Linked DNA regions of Homo sapiens: region 1 is linked to region 2. Evidence: fine-mapped expression QTL. A gene starts in region 2. The other region holds a variant in brackets. All regions are shown on one strand. Distances are from middle to middle. Region 1 has its middle 4.9 kb from the start of GRXCR2. Region 2 holds the start of SH3RF2 (SH3 domain containing ring finger 2).

The links. PIP is the estimated chance that this variant, and not a neighbour inherited with it, causes the effect.
Region 1: its variant is fine-mapped to the expression of SH3RF2 in subcutaneous fat (FUSION, PIP 0.95).

Annotation. Positions count from the first base shown.
Region 1 is chr5:145,875,245-145,880,622 of GRCh38, forward strand. It overlaps a transcript of GRXCR2 not described here. Among named protein-coding and RNA genes, the nearest start is that of GRXCR2, 4.9 kb to the left of the region's middle. The variant C/T (reference allele first, on the strand shown) is at 2,530.
Region 2 is chr5:145,933,225-145,938,602 of GRCh38, forward strand. It overlaps SH3RF2 (SH3 domain containing ring finger 2), which reads left to right and starts at 3,354. Exons shown (of 10, transcript NM_152550.4): 1 at 3,354-3,470; 2 at 4,599-5,082. The coding sequence starts at 4,705. It overlaps LOC107986458 (a long non-coding RNA gene), which reads right to left. Exons shown (of 4, transcript XR_001742913.2): 4 at 2,477-2,539. RefSeq lists an enhancer at 3,092-3,669.

The DNA of each region.
Region 1 (5,378 bases), 58 kb before region 2:
TTTGTATAGAATAGTGAAGAGGTGGCTGGGCGCGGTGGCTCACGCCTGTAATCCCAGCACTTTGGAAGGGCCGAGGCAGGTGGATCACGAGGTCAAGAGATTAAGACCATCCTGGCCAACATAGTGAAACCTCATCTCTACCAAAAATACAAAAATTAGCAGGGTGTGGTGGCAGGCACTTATAGTCCCAGCTACTCGGGAGGCTAGAGCAGGAGAATCACTTGAAGCCAGGAGGCAGAGGTTGCAGTGAGCCAGGATTGCACCACTGCACTCCAGCCTGGTGACAGAGCGAGACTCCATCAAAAAAAAATAAATAAAGAATAGTGAAGAGGTAGGATCAGAAGATTTTTTTTTTAATCTACCTTTCTACTAAGGAGAGGTGTCACAGTTGTAAATTCCCTGTGTAACTGGTACAGAAATAGGTGGGAGAGAAGAACTAGGGAAACAATGTTTAAAGAAAAAGAAAGATACACTTTTCATAACATTGTAACTCCCCCAGGATGCAGAGTTGTCTGGGACACACCATCAATGAATCACAGGAGACTGAGACCTTGAACTCTCAGCCCTCATGGCAGCCAGGTGTCCCCCAGGACTACATTAGCCTTATTCATTTACTTCACTGTATAGAACAATATCAAGCTGGGCATGGTGGCCCACATCTGTAATCCCAGCTACTCAGGAGGCTGAGGCAGGAGGGTTGCTTGAGCCAAAGAGTTTGAGACCAGCCTGGGCAACAAAATGAGACTTTGTCTCTACAAAAAGTTTTTTAAAAATTATCTGGGCATGGTGGTGCTTGTCTGTAGTCCCAGCTACTCAGGAGGCTGAGGCAAGAGGATTGCTTGAGCCCAGGAGTTTGAGGCTAAAGCCAGCTACAATTATGCCACTGCACTCCAGCCTGGTTGACAAAGTGAGACCCTATCTCTTAAAAAATTGTATGTGTGTGTGTGTATATATATATATATATATATATATACACACACACACACATACCCACACACACAAACACACACATATAAATGTAACAATTATTATTTTCCTTTTTTTTTTTTTGAGACAGGGTCTTGCTCTGTCGCCCAGGTTGGAGTGCAGGGGTGCAACCTTAGCTCACTGCAACCTCTGCCTCCTGGGCTCAAGCAATCCTCCCTCCTCAGCCTCCTGAGTAGCTGAGACCAAGGCATGCAACAATTATTATTTTCTATGTGTGCCATGCCATGAAAAAGATTGGGAACTCCTAACTAGAAGAATATTTTCTTCTATCTCTCCCAGGAAACAAATATTAATAAATAACCAATAGCCTATCTTCATCTAGAAAAACCAGTGAGCTGACTTCCACAACTACTTGTCAAGTAAACATTTTCAATTGCCCCAAAATGAATGTCAGTAACAACAACAAAAACAAAGCTGGAGGTGAGTTTTCCAAGTAACATTTCTTCAACACTTTTTTATGCCATTTCCCATGTTCACAGACAGATTTTCAGTGAGCCAACCTAAAATCATGGGAAGTTTTGAAACAACCATGTTCATCTGAAAATTTTCAGACGTTGGTGTTTCCAGAATAGTCACAAATACACTTCAAGAAGAAGAACAAATTGATAAATCGAAAGCAGTTTTGGCAGTATTATCAAAAGCCTTAAAAATATTTATATCCTTGAAACCTCCTAAGAAAGAAAATACTGTAGCTCCATATATCCAAAGAAATCATGGCAAAATGCTAGTATCAGTTGACTCTGGCAACTGGGTGGAGGATTTTGAGTGTTTTTTTTTCTTTCCCAGTTTAATCATATTTTACTTGTCTGTGATAAGTTTGTCTTACTTTGATAAGCAAGAATAAAATAAATGAAAAAAATCCATTGCTTTCTACCCAATTATTTCTCTTCAGAAAATCATTTTAAAGAAAGAAAGATATTTATTTAAAGATACTCCCCTAAATATTATTCATACTGGGAAAAAAATTGAAAACAACTTAAATGTTCAACAATAGCAATGACACAATATGAAAAATTATGTAGACATTTTTAAAAGGTTAACAAAAAAAAGGAGAGGAGACACTTGTCCTTAGTAGAAAGGTCGATTAAAAAAAAAATCTTCTGATACTACCTCTTCACTATTCTTTTTTTTTTTTTTCAGACAGAGTCTCACCCTGTTGCCAGGCTGGAATGCAGTGGTGCAATCTTGGCTCACTGCAACCTCTGCCTCCCAGGTTAAAGTGATTCTCCTGCCTCATATGGAAATAATAAGAAAATAATATGGAAACAGATTTATGATACAAATTAAGTAGGAAAAGATATAACAGATTTTATGTTCTGTGACATAGAATTTATATTATAAAACTGTATAGAAGAGATCTGTTCCAAGATGGCCGAATAGGAACAGCTCCAGTCTGCAGCTCCCAAAGTGATCAACGCAGAAGACATGTGATTTCTGCATTTCAAACTGAGGTACCTGGTTCATCTCATTGAGACTGGTTGGACAGTGGGTGCAGCCCATGGAGGGTGAGCCAAAGCAGGGCGGGGCATTCCCAGTAGGGGC[C/T]GACAGACACCTCATATAGGTGGGTGCCCCTCTGGGATGAAGCTTCCAGAGGAAGGATGAGGCAGCAATATTTGCTGTTCTGCAATCTTTGCTGTTCTGCAGCATCTGCTGGTGATACCCAGGCAAACAGGGTCTGGAGTGGACCTCCAGCAAACTCCAACAGACCTGCAGCTGAGAGACCTGACTGTTAGAAGGAAAACTAACAAACAGAAAGAAATAGCACCAACATCAACAAAAAGGACATCTACACCAAAACCCCATCTGTAGGTCACGAACATCAAAGACCAAAGGTAGATAAAACCACAAAGATGGGGAGAAACCAGAGCAGAAAAGCTGAAAATTCTAAAAACCACAGTGCTCTTCTCCTCCAAAGGATCACACCTTCTCACCAGCAACGGATCAAAGCTGGATGGAGAATGACTTTGATGAGTTGACAGAAGTAGGCTTCAGAAGGCTGGTAATAACAAACTTCTCCGAGCTAAAGGAACATGCTCAAACCCATTGCAAGGAAGATAAAAACCTTGAAAAAAGGTTAGACGAATGGTTAACTAGAATAAACAGTGTAGAGAAGACCTTAAATGACCTGATGGAGCTGAAAACCATGGCATGAGAACTTCATGACACATGCACAAGCTTCAATACTTGATTCAATCAAGTGGAGGAAAGGGTATCAGTGATTGAAGATCAAATTAATGAAATGAAGTGACAAGACAAGGTTAGAGAAAAAAGAGTAGAAAGAAATGAACAAAGCCTCCGAGAAATATGGGACTATGTGAAAAGACCAAATCGACATTTGATAGGTGTACCTGAAATTGATGGGGAGAATAGAACCAAGTTGGAAAACACTCTGCAGGATATCATCCAGGAGAACTTCCCCAACCTAGCAAGGCAGGCCAACATTCAAATTCAGGAAATACAGAGAATAACACAAAGATACTCCTCGAGAAGAGCAACCTCAAAACACATAATTGTCAGATACACCAAGGCAGAAATGAAGGAAAGAATGGTAAGGGCAGCCAGACAGAAAGGTCAGGTTACCCATAAAGGGAAGCCCATCAGACAAACAGTGGATCTCTTGGCAGAAACCCTACAAGCCAGAAGAGAGTGGGGGCCAATATTCAACATTCTTAAAGAAAATTTTCAACCCAGAATTTCATATCCAGCCAAACTAAGCTTCAAAAGTGAAGGAGAAATAAAATCTTTACAGACAAGCAAATGCTGAGAGATTTTGTCACTACCAAGCCTGCCTTACAAGAACTCCAGAAGGAAGCACTAAACATGGAAAGAAATAACCAGTACCAGCCCCTGCAAAAACATGCCAAATTGTAAAGACCATCAATGCTATGAAGAAACTGCATCAATTAACAGGCAAAATAGCCAGCTAACATCATAATGACAGGATCAAATTCACACAAAACAATATCAACCTTAAATGTAAATAGGCTAAATGCTCAAATTAAAAGACACAGACTGGCAAATTGGATAAAGAGTCAAGACCCATCAGTGTGCTGTATTCAGGAGACCCATCTCACGTGCAGAGACACACATAGGCTCAAAATAAAGGGATGGAGGAAGATCTACCAAGCAAATGCACAGCAAAAAAAAAAAAAAAAGCAGGGGTTGTAATCCTAGTCTCTGATAAAATAGACTTTAAACCTACAAAGATCAAAAGAGACAAAGAAGGCCATTACATAATGGTAAAGGGATCAATTCAACAAGAAGAGCTAACTATCCTAAATATATATGCACCCAATACAGGAACAACCAGATTGATAAAGCAAGTCCTTAGAGACGGACAAAGAGACTTAGATTCCCACACAATAATAATGGGAGATTTTAACACCCCACTGTCAATATTAGACAGATTAATGAGACAGAAGGTTAACAAGGATATCCAGGACTTGAACTCAGCTCTGCACCAAGCGGGCCTAATAGACATCTACAGAACTCTCTACCCCAAATCAACAGAATATACATTCTTCTCAGCACCACATTGCACTTATTCTAAAATTGACCACATAACTAAAGCACTCCTCAGCAAACATAAAAGAACAGAAATCACAAACTGTCTCTCAGATCACAGTGCAATCAAATTTGAACTCAGGATTAAGAAACTCACTCAAAACCGCACAACTACATGGAAACTGAACAACCTGCTCCTGAACAACTACTGGGTAAATAACGAAATGAAGGCAGAAATAAAGATGTTCTTTGAAATCAATGAGAGCAAAGACACAACGTACCAGAATCTCTGGGACACATTTAAAGCAGTGTGTAGAGGGAAATTTATAGCACTAAATGCCCACAAGAGAAAGCAGGAAAGATCTAAAATCAACACCCTAACATCACAATTGAAAGAACTAGAGAAGAAAGAGCAAACAAATTCAAAAGCTACCAGAAGGCAAGAAATAACTAAGATCAGAGCAGAACTGAGAGAGATAGAGACACAAAAAAAACCCTTCAAAAAATCAATGAATCCAGGAGCTGTTTTTTCGAAAAGATCAACAAAATTGATAGACCGCTAGCAAGACTAATAAAGAAGAAAAGAGAGAAGAATCAAATAGATGCAATAAAAAATGATAAAAGGGATGTCACCACCAATCCCACAGAAATACAAGCTATCATCAGAAAATACCATAAACACGTCTATGCAAATAAACTAGAAAATCTAGAAGAAATGGATAAATTCCTGGACACATTCACCCTCCCAAGACAGAAGAATCTCTGAATAGACCAATAACAGACTCTGAAATTGAGGCAATAATTAATAGCCTACCAACCAAAAAAAGTCCAGGACCTGAAGGATTCACAGCCGAATTCTACCAGAGGTACAAGCAGGAGCTGGTACC
Region 2 (5,378 bases):
AATAAGACCAGGTTTGCTTGTTTGTGTGTTTTATATACATAAATCTAAATGTACTCATAAATATGCACAGCAGAAGGTCAGACATATCATACAGATTTTTTAAAAGAATGCAGCCAATCATCACCCCATAACTATACAGATAGAAACAGGAGTGTTGGTGGGGTGGGAACAGCGGGAGAAGGGAGGTGGCCTGGAGTCTGAAGAGGTATGCATAGTTCACCTTTTTGTTTGTTTTTAAAGACTACATGTTCATCTGATTTGATGCCAAGGTAGTATTTGGGTAAGCCAGAACAAATCCCCATTTAAAACTCTCGCCCTTCTTTAAAAGTTTCAAGAAATTTTCTCTTCAAGACTAACCTCATGTGGGTGGTGTTGGGGACCACCTACAGGGCGTCGTTTGAGAGGTGCTGAAAGATGACCCCTCGCTTCAGTGTACCTTTTCTCTGTCCTCCATTAGAACCTAAAATTCTACCATCACGATTCTACTTGGCTGGATTTTCAATTGCCAGATTTGCTACAAGAGTAACCCACTGGATCTAGTCTGCCTTCCTGGGACTGAGCTGGTTTGACTGCATTTTCTCAGGGATGGGAAGGTTTGAAGCTTTTAAGACCATTGACCATACAGGGGTGTGGAGGGGCCATGAGATGGGTAGACTACAACCCAGAGGGGCCCAATCTCCTTTTCTGACATCAATATTTTGTCTTGGGTTGGCTCTGAGATCAGCTGGTGTGTACAATATGGGTATATGTGTAACCATGTGCAGATTTAAATAGTAAAGATACATGGGTGTACTTATGATATGTACATGATTTTATAAAATGAAAAGAAACACAGGCCCCGGGATTAGACCAACCTGAGTTCAGATCACAAGGTTTGTAACCCTGGGAAAGTTACAGTATCTTACGGGGTGGTTGGGAGAATTCAATGAGATAATATGTTTAAAATCTTAGCATTGGTCAGTGGCATACAGCAAGTGCTCCATAGGTGTTACTATTATTAAGATTATGTATGTGTGCACCCTTACACAAGTGTATGCATGCATCTGCATATAGGTGCAGATATGAGTATGTAAGGGAGATAGAGTGTGTTTAAGAACAAGAGAAAGAATAATGAAAAATATCGCCAATCTCTGCAACAGGAGTTCCAGCATAGGAGTGGCCCTTTTTACGGAGTGAGACCACTGCAGGGCACAAAGGAAACTGACTCAGCTTTACTAAGTGGGAAACAGAGTAAGAGGACAGTAAACCTCAAGAGCTTCCTTAGTGGCACAGACTCAAGAGTAGAAATTAATAGAAGGAGACAGGCAAGCAGAATGGGATGTGATGTTATCAAAGCTCAAAAGTGACGTTAAAAAAGTAATAGTTGAAAGTGGTCTCTGAAATTGTCCTACATCAAAATTAGGCCTCCGTGCTCAGAAAATAGATAACCATCGGCTCCATCCTAAAGTTCTGGGCCACATGCATGTTTGATGTTTTGGAACTAACATGAAAGAACGTGGAAAAATATGTAAACAATGTTTTCAGACCTCCTGGTCTCCTCTTAAGATTTTCCCATTGAGCTGTGTCTGAACACTCTCTGCATAATAAATAATTGTCATCCTTACGTCTAGAGAGAAGATATAGTAATAACAATAATTTTAAAAAGAACACCCAGTTTCTTTCTCTTTTTTTTTTTTTTTTTTTTTGAGACGGAGTCTTAGTCGCCCAGGCTGGAGTGCAATGGCACAATCTCAGCTCACTGCAGCCTCCACCTCCCAGGTTCAAGTGATTCTTGTGCTTCAGCCTCCCAAGCACTCCCAGCCAACACACCCAGCTAATTTTTGCATTTTTAGTAGAGATCGGGCTTCACCATGTTGGCCAGGCTGGTCTCAAACTCCTGACCTCAAGCAATCCACCCACACCTCAGCCTTCCAAAGTGCTGGGATTACAGGCATGAGTCACCGCGCCTGGCCTCAAACACCTAGTTTCTAGTCCCAATTCTGCCCCTAACTCACTGGACAACTTCAAAGAATCCCTTGATCTTTCTGGGCACAGCTGCCTCATCTGTAAGAGAAAGTGAGTAGCCAGTTTTGTCCATTATCTTTTGACCTCTTGCCCTCTTAGGGGAGGCTTAGCTCCCTTGAACCACCTCTTCACCTCTTTTTTTTTTTTTTTTTTTTTGTCGCCCTGGCTGGAGTGCAGTGGCACGATCTCAGCTCACTCCAGCCTCCGCCTCCCAGGTTCAAGCGATTCTCCTGCCTCAGCCTCCTGAGTAGCTGGGACTTCAGGTGCGCACCACCATGCCCAGCTAATTTTTGTATTTTTAGTAGAAATGAGGTTTCACCATGTTGGTCAGGATGGTCTTGATCTCCTGACCTTGTGATCTGCCCACGTCGGCCTCCCAAAGTGTTGGGATTACAGGCATGAGCCACTGCGCCTGGCCAGCCTCTTAAAGTTATATCACTCCATGACATTGTTAAGAGCACAGCCCACTTGCCTTCTGCTAGCTGTGACTCCCGAGATGAGTTATTTATCCTCTCTGTGTCTCAAGTTCCCTCATCTGCAAGATGAAAGTAAAGAATAGTTTAGTGTCTCCTTGGGTTGTTAAGGGGTTAAAGGGCTAACACAGGTAAGGTATTTAGAACAGTGGTTGACACAGATAAGGACTACCCTGGCATTAAGATTGTTATTATTCACTTAATCGGATACCTTTGTAATTTTACATGAAATGTATTATCGATAAATCAAAAAATAGAAATATAGGCATAATCTGAGGATATGAAAAGACTACAGTGGATAACAGGCAGGAGGAGAGCTTGGAGGCCACTGCTTTTCCTTTTTTGAAAAAGCTTCTCTGTGCTTTGATTTTTCACGTATGTGTATATACGTGACACTAGTTTTTTAATTTAAACAGATTGAGCAAAAAGATCACTAAAGTCCCTCTTATCTCTAAATTCAGAGATTGACTATGATTTTCAAAGAGCAATATTTTCTAGGTGTCCGACTTATCCTTGTTTTCATAGCTTGACCATTTTTACTTTTGACCTTCCCAGGAAATCCTTATGAAGATTTAAAATAAACACAATCACTTTGGTATGTTTATAATGGAGCAGGTTCTGACTCCTTGGATACTACAGAAAACGGGAAAGGTGAAAATATGAACTTTGTAAATACTTGGCCTTAGGGACTGGCTTATATTTTACCTCTTACAATCTTTTCCCAGAAGCAATTCAGTAAACTGAAGGAAAGATCATAAAGTTAACAACTGCAACAACAAAAGCGTGGTAAGTAGGCAGCGCCCTGGCAGTGAAAGCGTTAACAGGGCTGGGTAAGGCGATCCCTTGAAATGAGTAAGACTGAGTGGTTAAAGTTTTCAAAGCGGTTGGCAGCAGCGGCGCTTGGAGGAAAGGAAGCCGGTTGGAGGGCGCAGCGCACCCCTGCTGCGCGGAGGAGGGGGCTGAGCTGAACTCAGCAGAAGTTACATGCACAAGGTTAGTGGCCCCCACACGCCTCCCCAGCCCGCTGCCGCGCTGACATCTTTGGAGAGGAGGCTTAGGAAGGCGAGGCGCCATCGCTCATTCTCGGTCGTGTCTGTCCTGCTTACTAGTCGCTAGTGGGGCCACTGGCCTTCTCGCCAAACCTCTGGGCTCGGTGCTTACCGAAGCCCTGGCACTTGTGAGGGACAGCTGACTTCTTCCAGACTTTTCTAAACTGGAGGCTTCTTTTCATACATCCAAAAGGAAACTTGTTTCTGGAACAAGTACTGTTTTCAGAGTACACACACACACGACCCCTACCTGTATATGCTGCCCCAGTACGGTTTTTACAGGTCGTGACCACAATCCAGAATTCCTATCTGCTTCATTTGAAATTGAGAACAATGTCAAAGTAACTAAACAGGCTGCACTACTTTACCTTGTGGGAGGAACATTGTCTCTGAGCCTAAGGTAATCGGGATGAGGAGAGAAAAAAAAAAAAAGATGAAAAAAGAAAAGAAACAAAGCTTCCAAGCACCCTGACCTGTGGTTAAGGCAAAACAATTTTTGGAAATGGGTTTCTAGTGGAAATTTTTCTTGTACATTGCTAGAATCATGTGGGAAGGTATATTGTGAAGGAAATAATTCTACATCTGCATGAGATTCAGATAAACTTACCCACCTAAACTAATCTGCATGTGGTGCAGATAATAGATACATTTAGATTTAGGGGAAGGAGGAGGAGGAGATAGCTTCACAGAAATTGCGTTCGGAGGGGGCTTTGTTGTAAGAATTGAGACTGTCCAGGAGCTTTCCCCGGGCAGGGGGTAAAGGACCTCTTCCCGCCCTGGCTGGTAGAGAGGGGTTGGGGGGCCACTTCAGCAGGCCAGTTTATCTCCCTGCTTTCCTGTCCACATAGGCAATAAGCAGTCAGTCTTGTGCTGAATGTTCCCTCTGATCCTCACAGCAAGCACGAGTTGAGTCTTATACCTGCTAGCATTGAATCAGAATGAGTCATTTGAAACTTGGGTGCCGGAACAAAGTACTTGCAAACTGCCTTATGAGACACTGCCTCAATGTAGGTGGGATATACCTCTCGGAGCAGTCACATTTTTTTTTCTCTCCTCTCCCTCCTTCAAGCAGGCAAAAATTCTGACGTTCTCAAGAGACCAGCTCTGCCCCCGTGGCTCAACTGACCCTACCATGTGGACGCTGCTCCTCCAGGTGGGAACTGGAGTTTTGAAATAAAATGGATGATTTGACGTTACTTGATCTTCTGGAGTGCCCTGTGTGCTTTGAGAAGCTCGATGTCACAGCCAAAGTCCTCCCTTGCCAGCACACCTTCTGCAAACCATGTCTACAGAGGGTTTTCAAGGCCCACAAAGAGCTGCGGTGCCCCGAATGCAGGACGCCTGTGTTTTCCAACATTGAGGCGCTGCCGGCCAACCTGCTGCTCGTGCGCCTTCTGGATGGAGTGCGCTCAGGGCAGAGCTCCGGGAGAGGGGGCTCCTTCCGCAGGCCTGGCACGATGACCTTGCAGGATGGCAGGAAAAGCAGGACCAACCCCAGACGTCTGCAGGCCAGTCCTTTCCGGCTAGTGCCTAATGTCAGAATCCACATGGATGGGGTAAGAGAGATCTTATTTGCTAATATCATGTCCACATAGAGGTTGGATTTGTGTATACAAGGAGCTAGAGATTATCTTCTTTTAGTTACATTCCAGAGTGCTGCTGTTGATTTCCCAGTGATAAGTTTCTGTGGGCAGTGATCATTTTACTCAAATACAATGAAAACCTGAGCCTATCTAATCCATCTAAGAATTCTCTTTAGAACTATTAAAGCTTCCTAGGTTCTCCTTTCCTCTAGTCCAGAAAGTAGTAGAACAAGGAAAGCCTTTTAGATTATATTTTTGGTGTTTCACTT